Homo sapiens: one gene and its partners. The protein of the gene in region 1 interacts with the protein of each later gene in a pairwise test. Each region holds a gene or a part of one and is shown on either strand. Other genes may lie near its edges.

What was found.
Region 2: the proteins of DZIP3 (region 1) and HNRNPUL1 interact in binary tests that used the Homo sapiens proteins (3 or more experiments, as listed by UniProt).
Region 3: the proteins of DZIP3 (region 1) and ZNF24 interact in binary tests that used the Homo sapiens proteins (3 or more experiments, as listed by UniProt).

What each region holds. Positions count from the first base shown.
Region 1 is NC_000003.12:108,690,693-108,695,354, forward strand, and holds the end of DZIP3 (E3 ubiquitin-protein ligase DZIP3), read left to right. Parts: intron 1-94; coding exon 95-205; 3' UTR 206-211; intron 212-2,667; 3' UTR 2,668-4,148; downstream 4,149-4,662. UniProt on the Homo sapiens protein: E3 Ubiquitin ligase proteins mediate ubiquitination and subsequent proteasomal degradation of target proteins.
Region 2 is NC_000019.10:41,260,156-41,267,411, forward strand, and holds the start of HNRNPUL1 (heterogeneous nuclear ribonucleoprotein U-like protein 1), read left to right. Parts: upstream 1-4,216; 5' UTR 4,217-4,348; coding exon 4,349-4,643; intron 4,644-4,709; exon of another isoform or gene 4,710-4,727; intron 4,728-4,925; exon of another isoform or gene 4,926-5,160; coding exon of another isoform or gene 5,161-5,188; intron 5,189-7,256.
Region 3 is NC_000018.10:35,334,381-35,341,423, reverse strand, and holds part of ZNF24 (zinc finger protein 24), read left to right. Parts: intron 1-690; 5' UTR 691-773; coding exon 774-1,193; intron 1,194-1,447; coding exon 1,448-1,595; intron 1,596-2,350; coding exon of another isoform or gene 2,351-2,364; exon of another isoform or gene 2,365-3,653; coding exon 3,654-4,192; 3' UTR 4,193-7,043. UniProt on the Homo sapiens protein: Transcription factor required for myelination of differentiated oligodendrocytes. Required for the conversion of oligodendrocytes from the premyelinating to the myelinating state.

The DNA.
Region 1 (4,662 bases):
AAGACATGTTGGTTGGTAACCCTGATGCATAGAGTGACAACTGCCTCTGCTAGGCTACATCTGAGAGACTGACATAAATCTTTTTGCTCCTTAGTGCATTAGACCATGGTTGATGCAACAGGGGACATGTCCAACGTGCAGACTCCACGTTTTGCTACCAGAAGAATTCCCTGGTCACCCCAGCCGGCAGTTGCCCAAGATCTGATACAAGGTCGGGGTGTCTATGCAAAGGAAGCTCAGTTTTCTTTTATTATGAGCTGCTTGTTTGAGTGGTGTAAAACTATGTGCTCTTCAATATAGTGCTAAAGAAGCCAGCTAATTTTATCAAAGCAGCAGCCAAAGAAGTCAGGACAAATCTTCAGGACTTGTGAAATGAACTGAAAGAGCTTGAAGCAGATGGAATTTTAATAGTTACACTATATATGCTCTTAGTAGGTTTTTTTCTTGTAGTGGAAACATAACTGTTAGCATATTTCTTAGGATGTTTTTTCTTGTCTTTTTAAATTCTTATTTCACTCATCCTTTACTCTCCCCTCAAGTATTCTACACTTTAATTTCCTGAAATAAATTTAAGGAAAAGGGAAATAGTAAAGAAGTAGGAATGGGTGCAGCACACCAGCATGGCACATGAATACACATGTAACTAACCTGCACATTGTGCACATGTACCCTAAAACTTAAAGTATAATAATAATAAAAGAAAAAAAAAAGAAAGTAAAAAAAAAAAAAGAAGTGGATATTCACGGAGAGCTATGAGGGGATAAAAGGGTATGATCTAATGGTAAGAAACTGGAAGAAACATAGCAAGTCATTTGTTCAGATTCTTCTCTGTGTCCCTGTGTCTCCAGAGATAAGGATGTCCTTTTCCTCCAGGTATACAGTGGGTACCTCTAGAATGAGGGTCTTATGACCTGCTTCCAGGGAAGGTCAGAGAATCCTTCCTAGGTTTTATGACTTGTTTCTGGGAAGAAGTGCAGGAGGAAAGTGAGTGAGACTTCCCTGCTTCTGCTGTTTTCTCAAACATCAAGATGCCATATTTTGGAGTAGCATGTCTTAAATCTCATCACCCGTCTCAGGTGCAGTTTCATGGCCATGAAGAAGACAGAAAGACCACTCATACCTGCATAAGTATTATCACAAACTTTCTTATCTTCTGTTTGTTCTCCTGAAAACCCATTTGTCTTTCCTAAACGAACCAATTTGTCCTTCCCATAGATGTCTTTCTCCCCCATTCCTTTCCCCTACTAAGTTAGGTATATAAGCCCCAAATTCTAACCACACTTTTCAGTTACTCTTCACGGAACACTCCCACATGTGCGAACATTGTCCGCATAAATAAGCTCTTTTCTCTTACTAATGTCTTTTTTTCAGTTTAATTTGCAGGCTCCTATTGAAATAACAAAAGTTGGTAGAGGAAAAAGTTTTTTCTCCCCTACAAAGGCCAAGAACATTTTGGCTTTATATTTATATTTATATTATAATGTGAATTGATTATAATTATAATGTGAATTGATAGAAATATATATATTTTTTTTCTGCCCCTGCTTGGCACATGACAGAACATGGGCATAGACAGACTGGCTATTGGTAATCCAGTCCTGGGAGATGATCAGGAGGCAGTACTCAATCCTACTTTCTTCTCTACAGCTTCCCATGGGCTAAAGAATTTACATGTCTGCCCACAGCAAATGTACTCAGGCTTCTACACTAACATAAGCCCACGGAAATGAAACAGAAAGGGACAGTTCATATGTTTCTGAATAGATCCAGTTGAATAGTCTCATTCAATTTGAGACTGTTGAACAACTGTTGTTGTTCTACATACATTTAAAGTCAGGGCACATGCGTCACTGCTTATTTTTCTTACTTGACATATTCCCTGCATTTCCATGTCTGCCTGTCCTTTAGATAAACAGTAAAAGTTTCCCATGTGCCAGTATTTCTCAAATGGTTTACATCAGAATCACCTGGAGGACTTTTAAGCTAGATTGTTTGGTCCCATCCCAGGGATTCTGAATCAACAGGTTTGCGATGGGTCCAGATAGTTTACTTTTCCAAGTTTACTAACAAGTTTGCCAAGTTCCCCCAGTTTATTACCATTAGACCATACCTTTTTGTCCAATCATTTAAAACAAATTTTTATATAATAAGTTTTATTTGTATGTAATAAATTTTATTATATAAAAATAAGTTTTAATATATATTATATAAAAAGTTTTAATAAATACCTAATATATTATTTAATATGATAAAACTTATATTAAATGAAATTTTATGCTGTTCTCTTGTCAATCTGTCTTTTGTTATCTTGCTGGTGTGCCTGTCATGTGAGGGACTGCAATCTGATATGCCTGTTTTCCACAGTCAAAGCAATTACAAGAGAATTGTTACAATTACCCAGTTATGTCAAGAGATTTTTTTTTAATTCACTAAGGTAGAGATAAGGAGAATGTATTAAAATAGGATATTTTAATTATAAATGCATGACTGGGGAGGGGGTATTGTTTTTGAATAAAATATGAGGTTATTTGCCATGACAAAAAAAAAAAGAAGTAGGAAAATCCCATGGAAATTTATGTTCCTTCTAACTTTTAAAACTACCTAAAAAATATAATTGATTTAAATTATATCTCAATATTCCCCATTCTTTTATATCCCCTTAAATAGGTACCCATGAAGAGATTATGAACTACTTGAAGGTGGAGACTGTACGGTGGTGTGTTGGAGCTGGCTTGTAATGTCTTATGAGTGACAATCGTTAGTTTGAGGAATTTTGTGAGACAGTTGTCAAATTGTTGCTAGCTTGAAATCTGCGGCAATTGGAGTATTTACACCATAGAAATGCTATAAGTGAAGACCTACCTTTCCCTTAAGAGCTAGTTGTTAAACCTTTACCAGCATACCACTGGACCTTGTCTAAAATTTCTTTGTGTTCCCAGTGTCTTGCCCAGTAGATACAAGATAAATATTGCCAGAATCAGATATCAGGAAGTAGTAAGAAAAGGAGTTAATATGCAAACTAAATCACTCGCTCAATTGAATAATTGAGATCTTCTGTTCATTTGTTCCTTGGACCTTAATCATTTGCATTTTGGAGAAAATTTTTTCTGCTTTAAAAGTCTGTAATTTCAGTTTTTGTGTCGGGGAGAGGGAAAAACTATTTGTCTGTAGTTGCTTTTTGTGACAAAGTGAATACCCACTGGGCTAAGTTTCATATCTAAAGCTTGTCACTAAGAATTTTCATTTTTAGGGGTCAAAAACCTATTTTGAAAATAGTGTTGTGTGAATGCTGTAAGTGTTGTACATGTCTCTGGTTTCAGAATTAAAAGAATTCAGAGTTACCTTGTGAGATAAATGTTCTTTGCTTCATATTCACAGTTTCACCTCCATTTAAATTTATGGGGAAGAATAAATGTTTCCTGACTCAGAAACAATTTTGCCTCCATATTTCAGTGCAAATATATTTTGAAGTTACTTTTAAATATTTATTTAAAACCTCTGTTTCTGTAACTGTATGTTAAACGTATTCTTCTGTAATGAGAATAGACTGGAACATGTGAGGGAAAAATATTTAAAAAAAGATGGCAGTCATCTAGACATGTAAAATGCCAAGAATGTCTTAGAATTGCACAATTTAGAATTTATAGAGCCTTTAATCACCTTGTCTAGCACCTTGTATTAGTCCATTTTCATGCTGCTGATAAAGACATACCTGAGATTGGGCAATTTACAAAAGAAAGAGGTTTAACGGACTTACAGTTCCACATGACTAAGGAGGCCTCACAATCATGGTGGAAGGCAAAGAGGAGCAAGTCACATCTTACATGGATGGCAGCAGACAAGGAGAGAGAGCTTGTGCAGGGAAACTCCCATTTTTAAAACCATCAGATCTCATGAGGCTTACTATCACGAGAACAGCATGGGAAAGACCTGCCCCCGTGATTAAATTATTTCCCACCAGGCCCCTCCCACAACATGGAATAATGGGAGATACAAGATATTTGGGTGGAGACACAGAGCCAAACCATATCACACCTTAAGGTCATGGTCATATAGCTAGTTATCTTGTAAAACCAATGTTTCTTAGTTCATACTTACAACTGCAATTTCACTTTCATTTAGAAAAGAATAAATGTTTCTTAATTGAACAACTATTTTATCTGTGTATTTCATTATAAGCATATTCTGAAACTACTTGAAATCTTTACTTCAAATGTATCTTTCTGTTTAATTGGGCTTAAACTTTTTCTACTGTTTTGAGAAACGTTAGGAAAATGGGAAGGAAAATATCCAAGAAGACAGTTATATAGACTTATAAAATGCCACGATTGTTTTAAAATAACAGAATGCCAAAGTTCATTGGGTCCTTAGTGACATATAATACATTTTCTTATTTTACAGGTATGTTGTACCCAATGTCACATGGCCAGATAGTGGCTAGGCCAGTCTCAGTACTTGAGGGTCTCTGATGCCTCATCACATGCTTTCTCCACAAACTCATGTTGTAATAGGGTATTGGTGTTGACTTGCCATGCTTAGCTCCAAGGATGGGGCCAGAGAACTTAATACAATAGTTGGTATATAGGGAGAATGTAATAGGACAGTGCTCCAGGAAGTTATATTTAATTCTTTAGGTGCTGAAGGTAATGGGATTATAGTTTT
Region 2 (7,256 bases), on another chromosome or scaffold:
CATTCCAAGACTCTAGAGTCCAAGGTTTAAAGAGTCTAGATTCAAAGGTTCTAGGTTTCAAAGATGCTGTGAGTCTTTGGTTCTAAGGACCTGAAATTCCAAAGTCTCTAATTCTATTAAAGTGCTAAGGTTCTAAGGCCTACTTTTTTTTTTTTTTTTTTTTTTTTTTTTTTTGCGATAGAGTCTCACTGTGTCACCCAGGCTGGAGTGCAGTGGTGCAATCTCGCCTCACTGCAACCTTCACCTACCGAGTTCAAGTGATTTTCCTGCCTTGGCCTCCCAAGTAGCTGGGATTACAGGTGTGTGCCACCACACCCGGCTAATTTTTATATTTTTAGTAGAGACAGGGTTTCACCATGTTGGCCAGGCTGGTCTAAAACTCCTGACCTCAAGTGATCTGCCCACCTCAGCCTCCCAAAGTGCTGAGATTACAGGCATGAGCCACTGCACTCAACCTTAAGACCTACTGTTCTAAAGCTCTGACATTATGTGGTTTTAGATTTTCTGGTTCTAACATTTTTGATAAAGCCTCAAGGTTTTAGGTTCTAAAGTTCTAAGATTCTGATTTTAGGAGCTAAGGCTCTATGAGTCTAGATGTTTATTCTTCTAGAGTTCAGAGTCCTTAAAATGTAAGATTATAGATTCTAAAGATTCTATAGTTCTAGACATGGAGGTTCTAAGGCCTAGGATTCTAAAATGTGATGTTCTAAGGCTCTGAGAGTCTAGATTCTCTGGCTGTAAGGCTCTAGATCATAAGGCTTCAAAATGTTATCTTCTCAAGTTCTAAGATTCTAATGATGATCAATTATAGTTTCTGAGGCTTTATGATAATAGATTCTCTTGTATAAGATCCTAGATCCTAAGGGTCGAAAGCTCTAGAATCTGCAATTCAAAAGTTCCAAGAGTCTAAAGATGGAGTTTCTAAGGTCCGGTGTTCTAAGATGTGATATTCTAAGACTTACTCTAAGATCTTAGATTCTCTGTGTCTAAGATTCTAGATCAGATGCTCCAAGATTCTAGATGATTAAATAAGATTCTAACGGTCTGTTCTGTTTCAAGGCACTCTAGATTCCATTGGTCCAAGATTCCGGATCCTAAGCATCTAAGTTATAAGACTCTCACACTCAGTTGTGACTAACTAGACACCAAAGTTCTAATAATTTCTAATGTTGGACACCTTTAGGTTCTTTGCTGCATTCTGCCTCTCTAGGACCATGGTTAAGAGTCCAAGAATCCACATTTCTAAAATCTTATAGTTCTAGGCACTGTAGTTCTAAGACTCAAATGTTCTAAGTTTCTAAGATTCTAAAGGTCCACAGGTCTAGACTATTAGGTGCAATTTCAAGGTTCTAACCCTATACTGTAGTATTCTTTGGGGTGCCCCTCTCCTTCTTAGCTATCATTGCTTCCTCCTCCCCAACTGTGGGGGTGTGCCCCCTTCAAGCCTGTGCAATGCATTAGGGATGCCTCCTTTCCCGCAGGGGATGGACGATCTCCCACCTTTCGGGCCATGTTGCCCCCGTGAGCCAATCCCTCACCTTCTGAGTACAGAGTGTGGACTCTGGTGCCTCCAGAGGGGCTCAGGTCACATAAAACTTTGTATATCAACGAGCTTCTGTCTCCTCTTGTCTCCTTTTAGCTGTGATGTGGCCCCATTCCCTGGCAATTCAGTTCCCCCATCAGAAAAAAGAAGGGCTTGGTAGGGTCTTGGAATTCTGTCCTCACTAGAGAGGGTAGAAATGAACACACAGATAGACAAAAAGACATACAAGCAAAGAGATGCAGGTTCTCAGAAACCCCCAGTGAGGAACTGGCATACAGATCCAGGATCACAGACACACACACACACACACACACCTGTTCCGCCGCAAACTAACAGACACATGAATTAATGGACACACCCAGGAGGACCTGGTCACAAATACAGAGACTGAAACTCAGACGCATAGAGTAACACAGACACACAGAATTACACAGACACAAGCATATTTACAAACATGCTCAGGCAGATACCCGCCACGAATAGGAAGAGACACAGACCTAGAGTCAAGTGACACAAATACTCAAGAGACATGTAGAGTACAACAGGTACTCACAACCCCGAACGTTCAGACTGACATAGAAACACAGGCACAGAACACCTCCGATCATCACGGACCCACAAAGGGCCTCCAGCGAAGACCAGCCCACCGTGTCTGGCACGCACTCGCGAGCGGGCGTTCGCGGGTGTGGCCGGCAGCAAATGGAGAAACCCTTGGCAGCGCCCGGACGCCCTCCAGTGGCGGCTCCTGAGAACCGGGGACAGTTCAATCCGGGCCACAAACTTTTTTAGAACAAATCATTGTGGGAAGCTGGGAGGAGAGAGAGAGAGAGGAAGTCGGACGTGGGCGAGGGGCGGGGTGTCTGGACTGGAACCTCTGGGCCCACGTGAGTGTCTGTCCCGCTGCTGAGTGGGTGCTGTGTGTTTGGGTTGCTGTAGTGTTCGCTTGTAGTGCAACTATCCTGTGTTATCTTTATTATTCGATGCCGCCTGCCTCTGCGGACCGTAGTGGGCACATCTACACTGCAGCGGGGTGCCTTACCCAAAGCAGATCGGAATTGGGGCCGGGCGCGGTGGCTCACGCCTGTAATCCCAGCACTTTGGGAGGCCGAGGCGGGCGGATCACTTGAGGTCAGGAGTTCGAGACCAGCCTGGCCAACATGGTGAAACCCCGTCTCTACTAAAAATACAAAAATTAGTCGGGCATGGTGGCGGGGACCTGTAATCCCAGCTACTCGGAAGGCTGAGGCAGGAGAATCGCTTGAACACGGGAGGCGGAGGTTGCGGTGAGCTGAGATAGAGGCCCTGCACTCCAGCCAGGGTAACAAGAGCGAGACTCCGTCTCAAAAAAAAAAAAAAAAAAAAAAGAACAACAAAAAAAAGAACTGGATGCGTCTGATCTGACGCACGCCTGTTTGTTTACGACTGCGGGGTGTGCCTTTGTCTGAGTAGAGATAGTGTGTGGCTTTTGCGGGCTTAACGTGTGGCTCAGGAGGCAGTGGGAGTCTGCATCATGTATCCCGATTGCGTCTTACTCGAGTTTTGTTTTGAGTTAGAGGCGACAGGTGGTGCAGCGTTAGACACTGGGAAGCTCTGTGGCTTTTGTATTCCTGAGCGCGAAGGTTAATGACGGATCCGTGGGGTTGAGCTTGTCGGTACAGACGCCAGACAGCCCGATTTACGGGAACAGCCGATTAGAGGATTCGGGAGAGCGGTCGGTGAACTTCTGGATGTCTTTCGGGAGGGGAAGGCTCTATGGTCGCGTGCAGAGCGCCCGTTCCACGTCAGGTACCCGACCATAGAGCAAGGCGGCCGCGGACTACCCAAGGGAAGGGGAGGCCGTGTCCTTTACAACTTGCCTCCCGTTGTTAGTCTAGTTTCTATAGCCAAACCTTCGGGACTCTCTCAACTCAAAATTTTGCTTTTCCTAAAGGCAACTGGGTTCCTTCCAGATTACGAACTGTGTATCCACTTAATCTCTATTTCGTATACCTCCTCCTACAGCGAAATTTGTGAGGCAGTCCTCTGAAGCACGGCCAATCTGGTGAACTTTTCCTAAAATGAGCCATCGCTACCAGCTTTAGTGAGCTAAGACAATAACTGCGATTGGTGGGCAGATTGTTTTGAAACCGCCCTAACGGCAAGGGGCGGGCTCCTGGTGAATTCATCTCTTTCCGGTTTCTTAAAGGCAACAGGAAGGAGGGGTTTCTGCCGACCCTCCATTTGATTGGTTCTAGTGGTTTTACCCGCTCGGACTCCTCAAGGGGCGGGAGATGTACACCAATCGGAATGTGTGTTACAGAGACACTTAGTTTGATGAAAGGACTGCGCAGGAAAGGCCGTGGGACACTCATTCTGAGATCTTACCGTTGATTGGACCAAATTGTTACTCCCTTATTTTCATTGGACCTTACGGCAGCCGGCGCGCGAGAGTTACCCAATCAGCAAGCGCTCCGCCTCCTGCCTTTTCCCGCCCTCCGCTCCGGCCTCGGCTTCGACGTAGGCCAACGCTTCCTCCCCAGTAGCTCCTAGGCCTTCTCGTGGCCGTTGTTTTGAAAACGGCGCTCTGATTGGCTAGGTTTCCGGGCCCGCGCCCGTTGCCCCACGCACTGACCAATTGGCACTCATGTAACATCGGACGAGGCACGAGTGAGGGGGGAGGCGGTGGCGGCGGCCATTTTGAGCCGCTGCCGCCATTGGAGTGGGCCCCCCCCCTTTCCCCCTTCGCCTCCTGACAGGAAAGGTTTAAGGGGGACAGAGCCCTGGGAGGCCGGGCCGGGCTCGGGGGCCACCCCGGGGGCCCGGGCCATGGATGTGCGCCGTCTGAAGGTGAACGAACTTCGCGAGGAGCTGCAGCGCCGCGGCCTGGACACTCGAGGCCTCAAGGCCGAGCTTGCTGAGCGGCTGCAGGCGGCGTTGGAGGCCGAGGAGCCTGACGACGAGCGGGAGCTCGACGCCGACGACGAACCGGGGCGACCCGGGCACATCAACGAGGAGGTCGAGACCGAGGGGGGCTCCGAGCTGGAGGGGACCGCGCAGCCACCGCCGCCCGGGCTGCAGCCGCACGCGGAGCCCGGCGGCTACTCGGGGCCGGACGGACATTGTGAGAGTGCGCGGGGCGGGGGCCGGGGAGCCCGGAGCCTGGGCCGAGGAAAGGGCTGTGGGACGCGGGAGTCCAGCGCCTGAGGTCGGGGAGACGACCTGAGGATCGGGGGATCCCGCTACCCGCCGCCGAAAAGGATCTGGGGACCAGGGCCCCAGCACGACCGGAGGGTGGATCCTGACACTCAGTGCAGGGGGGACACTGGGGGAGGGGCCTCTGGGTTTCGGAGGTGAGGGACGGGGGTGGCGGGGAGGATTCCGTACCGTAGGGATCGGAGACCGGAAACTGCTTTCTGGAGCCGAAGAGAGTCGGAAGAACAAGAGGTTTTCCGTTTGGGTTGGGGAGGGTCTCGAAAATGGGGATCCTAGGGTACGGAGCTCCGTGGGCTTGGCGGTCGTGCTAGCCCAGCGTGTGGGCTGGGGGGTGGGGAGCCGTGTTTCCAGGGTGGGGAAGGAATGTCCAGGTGTGCGGGGCTGCGAGAGTTCTGAGGAAGGAGGATCCTGGAATATGCCGCTGGATGCGATCCTGGGCGTTCTCCTATTTGGGTACGGGGGTGGGTGGGAGAGGTGGAGGCGCTGGTGTCTGTGGCTGGGGAGGGTCCTAATGGACTCAGTGCTTTGGAGTTTGGCTAGTGAGCATTTAGGGGCTGCGGGAGATTGAACTAGGGGGCACCCCCATCTCTCTTCCGGGGCTGGAAGGCCACCCTTGAAGCAGGCACAGCCTGGACATTAGGTGCTGGGAGATCTGGGGACTTTCTGGTTGGCTTCTAGAAGAGGTATAGGGAGCCCTGGTGTCCAGAGGCTGGCGGGGGAGAGGATGCTTTCCTGGACAAAGGATCTGGGGGTCTAGAGCTAAGAAAACTGAGGGCAAATAACTCTTGAGGCTGCTGCTGACTGGTCTGGAGCTAACTGTGGGGTTTTTGGAGAACAGAGGGTAGCTGGGGGTGGGATGGGGGCAGATGAGTTGGTAACATTCCAAGTGGATGAAATATGTGGCGGGAGACAGAGGATCCTGTGTCCAGCACAGGAGTACGTATCTGGCTTAGCGAATATGGGGAGGGGGGAGGCCGTAGGGAGCAAAGAGAAAGAAACCTGTTGACTTCACTGGAGGCCTCAGAGTGGAGTGTGGGGAATGTTTCTGGACCTGAGCGTCTCCAGGAGAAATCTCGACGGTTCCCAGAAGCAGTTATTTGTGTACCCAGGGAGTGGGGGCCCTCGGGGAGCAGCACGGAACTCTTCATCAGCCAGGAGCTGTGACTCTGGGAATGGGTTCGGGTAGACCTGCGGTTGTCTGAGGAGAGGAAAACCTGATATGGGACGGCGTGAATCTTCAGTTAGAAAAAAAGCAGCTTTCGGGCCGAGTGCAGTGGCTCACGCCTGTTATTCCAGCACTTTGGGAGGCCGAGGCGGGCGGATCACGAGGTCAGGAGTTCAAGACCAGTCTGGCCAGCATAGTGAAACCCTGTCTCTACTAAAAATACAAATATTAACCGGATCTGGTGGTGTGCGCCTGTAGTCCCAGCTACTCGGGAGGCTGAGGCAGGAGAATCGCTTGAACTTGGGAGGGGGAGGTTGCAGTCAGCCGAGATTACGCCATTGCACTCCAGCCTGGGCAACAAAAGTGAAACTCCGTCTCAAAAAAGAAAAAAGCAGCTTTCTTTCTCTTTTTTTTAAATACAGATGGGGGGTCTCGCTATGTTGCCCAGGGTGGTCTTGAACTCCTGGGTTCAGGTGATCTCACCTCGGCCTCCTGAAGTGCTGGGATTACAGGCGTGAATCACTGCACCAGGCCTCAGGGCAGCTTTCTAGTAGGACTGGGAAATGGGGGGACTGGAAAGGTTAAGGAGTAAGTAGAAGGGATTCTGGCGTAAGAGTTTGTGGAGTTTTTCTGAAAAGAGGGCACCCTGGGACTTGGGGCTAAGGGGATAAGGAGAGAAATGAGGTAACAGAAGAGACAGGATTTGGGGTTGGAATTGGATACTTGTTCATAAGAGAATTTCCCGGAGGGAGGAGTGTGGATTTGGGGTAGGCAGTGGCCTAGAGATTATCGAGGACCCAGGTGCTGGAAAGAGGACTTCCCATTGCAGAGACTTGTGAAGAAAGGAGTGGGCCTGTGTGTGTGTCTAGAGCAGGAGGGATCGTGGCAGGAATGCCTAGCAAGAAAGGGTAGTGGGTTAGTAGTGACCTGGTGGTCTGGGCAGAGAGTCATCTCTGAGAGGAAAGCGAATTAGGTGCTTTGGAGCGTAGACTCTAGACTAAGACAGACTTCGTTTCAAATCTGGCTTAAAGATATTGGCAAGTCACTTCACCTCTGTGGGCCTGGTTTCCTTAATGTGTAAAATGGGGTTAATCAACAAATAGTGTGTTCACAGCCCCTCCAACCCCTGAGGGGTGTTATGAATGAGATCACATGTGAAGGGCTTATCACTGGGCCTGCCTTTTATGAGAAGAGGGATGTTTTAGAGAATGGAGAAGGACCCTAGAATTATAGCTTCTCCAGGAGGGGCTGCCTCTGTGAACACAGGAGAGAGATGCTGGGGAAAAGAGGCTTTGTGGGAAGAGGAGCATTGTGCTTGGAGCCTGGAAGCAGCAGAATAGTTTGAAAGGGCCCCAT
Region 3 (7,043 bases), on another chromosome or scaffold:
TTTATTATTGTTATCAAGTTTTATGTACCATACATAACTGTATGTGTTAAACTGGCAACACAGCAGGTTTGTTTACACCAGCATCACCACAAACATGTGAGTAATGTATTGACCTTACAACAGCTACAGTGTCACTAGGTGAATCTTGAATTTTTCAGCTCCATTATAATCTTATGGGAGCACTGTCATCTAGGTGGTCCTTCATTGACCCAAACATCATTTTGTAGTGCATGACTGTGTTGGGTTTTTTTTAGGCCATCTAGTCTGTTGAAACTACTCAACTCTGCTATTGTAGCGTGAAGTATGAGTAAGTACAATTATTTATGGACACAGTCATGTTAATTTCATATCATTTTCACGTGTCATGAGGTATTCATTTGATTTTGGGGAGCTCCATTCCCTAAATATCATTAGGTATTCATTTGATTTTAGGGATCTCCGCTCCGTAAGGCACTGTGATGAAGACCACAGCCATTTAAAAATGTGAAAATTATTGTTGGTGCAAGTGTTGTACAGAAATGGGTGGCAGGCTAGATTTGGCCGTGAAGCTGTAGTTTGCCAATTCCTGGTGTAGGTTATTGATTGGAATTTTTAACTCAAAGAACAAGTATCTTTTACTTTTACCAGTATAAGTTCAAATTCTTAGGATATTTTTGCTTATTTATATATCTTTTATTTCTTATGCCTCAGGAGTGCCTGTGAAGAAAACGGGGTATTGCCCTGAGGCTTATATTCTGCCTCAGTTGTCTTTTCTTGAAATATTATAAATCAGAATGTCTGCACAGTCAGTGGAAGAAGATTCAATACTTATCATCCCAACTCCAGATGAAGAGGAAAAAATTCTGAGAGTGAAGTTGGAGGAGGATCCTGATGGCGAAGAGGGATCAAGTATCCCCTGGAACCATCTCCCAGACCCAGAGATTTTCCGACAGCGATTCAGGCAGTTTGGATACCAGGATTCACCTGGGCCCCGTGAGGCTGTGAGCCAGCTCCGAGAACTTTGCCGTCTGTGGCTCAGGCCAGAGACGCACACAAAAGAACAAATCTTGGAGCTGGTAGTGCTGGAGCAGTTTGTTGCCATCCTACCCAAAGAGCTACAGACTTGGGTTCGAGATCATCATCCAGAGAATGGAGAGGAGGCAGTGACAGTGCTGGAGGATTTGGAGAGTGAACTTGATGACCCTGGACAACCGGTGAGCCTGCTTGTGTCATTTCCTGTGTCAGAAGCACTGGCATAGGTAGTAGGCAAAGCTGCTGAATTAATTCCACTCAACTAAGTTAGAATTATGTTTATGCCTTTTCCCCCATTCCCCTACCACTCCTTGTTATCTGTGCCGCTTTGCCATCTAGGCTTCTGCAGTATTTGTTTCATGGGGTTTCTCTTACGTGTTTTTAGTTCTGATTCTCATTACAGTTCCTTCTCTGAATCAAATCTTTCTGTTTCCAGGTTTCTCTCCGTCGACGAAAACGGGAAGTACTAGTAGAAGACATGGTATCTCAAGAAGAAGCTCAGGGATTACCAAGTTCTGAGCTTGATGCTGTGGAGAACCAGCTCAAGTGGGCATCCTGGGAGCTCCATTCCCTAAGGCACTGTGGTGAGGACCAGAACTCTGTGTGGGCTAGAGGGTGAAAGAGAGTATAGGCCTTTTGTTCAGAACTTTGCTTGTTCTCACTGGTGGGGGGATCATATCACTCTTAATCTAATATCTCAGTTTTTTTCTGATTAAGTTGATTTTGCTGGCCTCAGACCTTTTATTCCTAGACATTAACATCTTCAGCCTTTTCTTCCCTTTCAGTCTCCTTCCTAAAAAGAGTTGCCCATGTCAGGCTAGCATTTGCCTTACTTTGAGCCAGCACCCACCCATGGACCAAGTCCCTCTATTTTGCATTCAGTATTACTTGTCATCTGTTTTACATCCTTTTACTTTCAATCTCCTGCCTAATTCCATTGGTACAGTAAGCTTACCTGAAAACCTCTTCTAATCTCTTTGTTGTATATCACTGAAATCTTTCTAAATATTTATTTCTGATTTCCTTCAACGTCTACCTAGAGTCATTTTCTTCTAAGAAGCTTCTTTTGTAGAAATATTTGGAGTAATTTTTTTCCTTTTTCTAAGTATTTATGCAAAAAAAGCCTCCTTAGCTATAACATGCTTTAAATGCAGAAAAATCTTTTTTAAAAGCTCAAAGTTGTATTAATTCACGAGACCAGTCTTTCCCAATATATTAGCCATTAACACCATATACTTATGTGTATCCTTTGATATGGCCCAGTATATTCCTAAAACTGCTAGATTGCTTTCTCATGTTTATGTGAACTAAAATGAAATTTTGTTTGACTCTGCTTTAGTAATCATTCCTTGAAGTAGTTGGAGATGGTGCTGGTATGCCACTGAATGAGGTCTGAGCAGGTTTTCTTCACATCTGAGGGGACAGTGCCAGCCAGTCAACTTTTGGGGTGGGGCTGAAGTCTGCTGAAAATCTGCAGTTTTACATGTTTCATGGGACATTCTTCTGTGCAATAAAGTTTGAGAAGTATCATTCTTGATATATGGGGCTGATATTTTCAACTTCTCATCATCTGAATTTTAGAGTGACTTTTCACCTGCGTTCCTTATTTCAGCTGTCTAGTCTCTTCCACACTTGGGAATTTCTGTTTCCTGTGTGCCGTTTGTCTCCACTTAATCTTCACGCTCCTCTGTTTTTCAAGTCTCCAAGCCTCACTATCCTCCTCTAACCTTTCAGTCTCTCTCTCTTAGCCTTATCTCCTGACTTGATCTTTTTGTTAATTATTTACTGTTTTCCTCTTCGCTGAAGGCAGTTGCTAACCCTATATGAACTGGATCTTTACTCCTTAAGGCATGAAGTTTTAGAAAAGTCTTAAATGACACTTGCTGTTATCTCTGCCTGCGTGTGAGTGATGCTAACCCATGTTGGTAATTCAGGCTTTTCTTTCATTGGACACGTTTCACTGAGGCTTAGAAATAACGATTTTTCTAAGTACCATGACAAATACCACATGGGAGAAGCTGCTTTTATTGGAAAACTTTCATTTATTAGGGGCATACTGAATTTTTATGTCATGTCTTTGGTTAACACAGGAGGCCCCCAGCTTATCTTCAGCCCCTTCTTGTCAAGACTCCTGTGTTCTGCTTTTAGGCTAACATTGGCTGTGACCTGACTTGGCTTGTTCATTTCAGAAATAGCCACTTTCTGACATGTTTTTCTAATTTACATCTTTGTATTTTGATGTAATTTCTCCCTTTCTCAAAGTAAAAGAACATTATAATGATTTCCTAGTGGCCAATTTTATTTTATTTTTATTCTTACAAAGTTTCATCCATACCTAGCCACATCATTTTGACTATCTCCCTAACCATCTTAGAATCTACCATCTTTCTGACCTTTGTTTTCTGACTACCATTTGTAAACCACTTGCCTATGTTTTATTCAGATATCCCTTATATCATGATGTTATACTGTTATTCAGAGTAATTTCATTTTTTCTTTTTTGAGAATAGGCCTTAACACCAGTGTCAGAGTGGTTTATAGATGTGTGCTAGCTATTTTAGTTCATTAAAAAAAAAATTTTTTTTAGGTTTCTTTTCCCTTAATAGATAATGAATGATATTTACATTTTCTGTTTATTTCAGATGATGATGGTAGGACTGAAAATGGAGCACTAGCTCCAAAGCAGGAGCTTCCTTCAGCATTAGAATCCCATGAAGTTCCTGGCACTCTCAATATGGGTGTTCCTCAAATTTTTAAATATGGAGAAACCTGTTTCCCCAAGGGCAGGTTTGAAAGAAAGAGAAATCCCTCTCGAAAGAAACAACATATATGTGATGAATGTGGAAAACACTTCAGTCAGGGCTCAGCCCTTATTCTTCATCAAAGAATTCACAGTGGGGAGAAACCTTATGGATGTGTTGAGTGTGGGAAAGCATTCAGCCGAAGTTCCATTCTTGTGCAACACCAGAGAGTCCACACTGGAGAAAAACCTTACAAATGTCTTGAATGTGGGAAAGCCTTTAGCCAGAATTCGGGGCTTATTAATCATCAGAGAATCCATACTGGGGAGAAACCTTATGAATGCGTTCAGTGTGGGAAATCGTATAGTCAAAGCTCAAATCTTTTTAGACATCAGAGAAGACACAATGCAGAAAAACTTCTGAATGTTGTGAAAGTTTAAGAAATTGAAAAAAAAAAAAGAATCAGCACTCAGGTCTTTTTCTTCAGAAATGAAGACAAAATTTAAAATATGAAATGATGCAGAATAGTTTTTTCCCTATTGACTGTCAGAAAATCCACTGGGAAATGTAAAAATCTTCACTCACCATTATGATATTTATCTTGAAAGAAATGGTGTCATACCTGCCTAGAAACTGAAATTTTAAACTTAATTCAGGTCTTAATGCCTAAATTTTCCATGTGATGTTTATAGTCTGTATTACTTCTCCAAATAATGAACTACCTGATTCATTGTCCCTTTCTTGAAAGTTTCTTTTTTAAGACAAATACATTATTTCTGCATTGATCATTGAAATGTTCTTTATATGGATACATTCCCTTATATATTAAAAGGCAACAGGAATTACAAAGTCTGAAAACCATTTTAAACCATCTTTTAAAAATTTACCCTTATTTCCTTTTACCTAATTTGAATATGCATTTGAGAAAATAAGAGGATAAAGGATGGCTAAGAGCCTCAAAATGAACCATAAGATCTCAGATAAGAAGTGATGGTGATAAAACATCAAAAAGTGAATGGAACACCTTGATTGGGGAAGATATGCAAATACTTTGATCTAAGAATTGAAATGTATCAAGAATTTATATTTTGCCTGCAGGAAAATTCAAAAGCTACTCATCCTCTCTATAATTTGGAGTCATCTTACTAATGAAAATAATGTTTTCCCATATATTATTAAAAAGCATACAGTCTAAATAATAAACAGTTGTAAAATAATGAAGGTAGAAATTATAACACTAGGGAAAAATTTGTAGCGGATGGCAGTGTTGAAGGCAAATGTAAACATAAGGGTAATGGTCTGTCATGGCTTTTAGAAAAAGATGATAGAGTTCATCATTATTTTGCCTTCATCTTTGTTAAGGACAGAAAATTCCCTGACAGGTGGGCAAGTATCAGGTTACCTATTTTTTATTCCTTTGGTACAAAAGGGTTGAACGTCAGGCTAAAAAAGCAGCCATGCATTTATTATTAAACATTTTCTACCGACAAGGCACTGTGCTAGGTACTGTAATCCTACCATAAGTAGGTAGGTATTTCTTCCACTGTAAATCATAGGGGTTTGCTGTTTTATGTGAGTTAGCCTCTTCCCCTTGTCTGAGCATTCCTCAGGGGAGGTCACCTGTGAGGTTCCCAGAACTGTAGTTTTTTTTACCAGGGTGTTGTATTTGGAGGGGGAGGAGGACTCGGCTCAAAAGAGCTAGCTGGCTCTCCAGTGTTCAGAGGTGAGTCCACGATACTCTTACCACAATTTGGAAGTTTGTGAATCTTTTTAAAGAACTAATCAATCTCTAATAGCATTGAGGTTGTACCTACATATTAAGTTGAATGGACTGTTCTATTTAAAAAATAAACAACTAGACAATTAACTAGTTTATTAACCTATCACAATTGAATTTTTTTTTAATTTTCAGTCTTAACACATTTTTTAAAATGTATTAAAGTAATACATTGTAGTAGTAGGATTATATACTCCTTGGCTGAGAATTCCAAGTACTGTGGTTCTACTGTTTAGTGGAAAACTCTGGAAGTTAAAATATAGAATATGAGAGGAGGCTTTTTTATAATGGGCATCATTGTGTGGAAAATGACCCATGTGAATACAAATATTTCCTAGTTCAGAGATTTTGGTTATATCTGGTGCTTGGATCAAGTTTAAAAATGGAAGGTGAGATTTTGCATGAGCCTATTAAAAAGCATAGTAATAAATGCAAGGCCAGCTGGTGGAAAAGTGAGGCAGAATGGAGCTTGTTTATAGGTTTTCTGATAACAATTATAAAAAATGTGCTTTATAGATTAAGATTTATTGAAGTATAAATATGTAGTAATGATATAATGTATTTTAAGTTATACAAGAAAATGTAGGGACTTTTGTTTGGGTCTTTTTCTCTTTGTGGCTGAGGGGAAACAAGTCAGTGTCCAATAAAGCTGTAAACTCCTCTGCTCTAAGATAAATGATGTGATTTATTTATTTATAACTGGCTTCTTTCCAAGTAGGTTTTCAGGTGGCATATTTGGAAGACGGCTGGAATGACAGAATTCTTGTATCAGAGTAGGTAAGAAGGGAGCAACCTCTCAATGGCTATTATGTCATGCTTTTTAAGATCGTATGCGGTTCCTATATACAAGGAAGCTTCCCTGTGGTAGATTTGTCATAAATGCCAAAGATATTTGGTAATGTGAGTGTAGAAAAAGTAGTATGAGGGTTGGCAAATACTGTTTTTGTCTTGGCAGCTCTAATATCTGCATTGTTCAGAAAGGATTCTGAGGCTAAGGCAAAGCTCTGTGGGAAAAAGGGACTGGACCAAAAAAAACTGGATGGTGGCACACAAGAAGAGGAAATGATGAGATGTGTACTTTCTATCTCTGGTTAGGCTTAGTCCCCACTAGACAAATTGATTTTAAATACTATGTAGTGATTTTTAAATTCCATCCACACATTCATTACCCACACAGATAATCATAGAAATTTGGGGGAGTGCCTAGCTTCTGATGAAGTGGTGATATGGCAGTGCCAAGCAGTGGCATCGCCAGAGTATCTGTTTGGTTAGCAAATGAGCAGTCATTTTAGGTCATGCAGATTGCTGATATCTGCCCAGTAGCCACTGAGCATTTGCTGGTTTTTTCTTCTGGCTTTCTTGGAGGTTAAGCTCTCTGTAGTCATACCCAGTTGGTACTTGATCTTTAGCAATATGTCTCATATTCATGTAAATTGAAGGGAGGGTTACATGTACTGAAATAATCTGCATGCTAGGCATTGGCTTAGACACCGTACCTATCTCACTTAGATTTG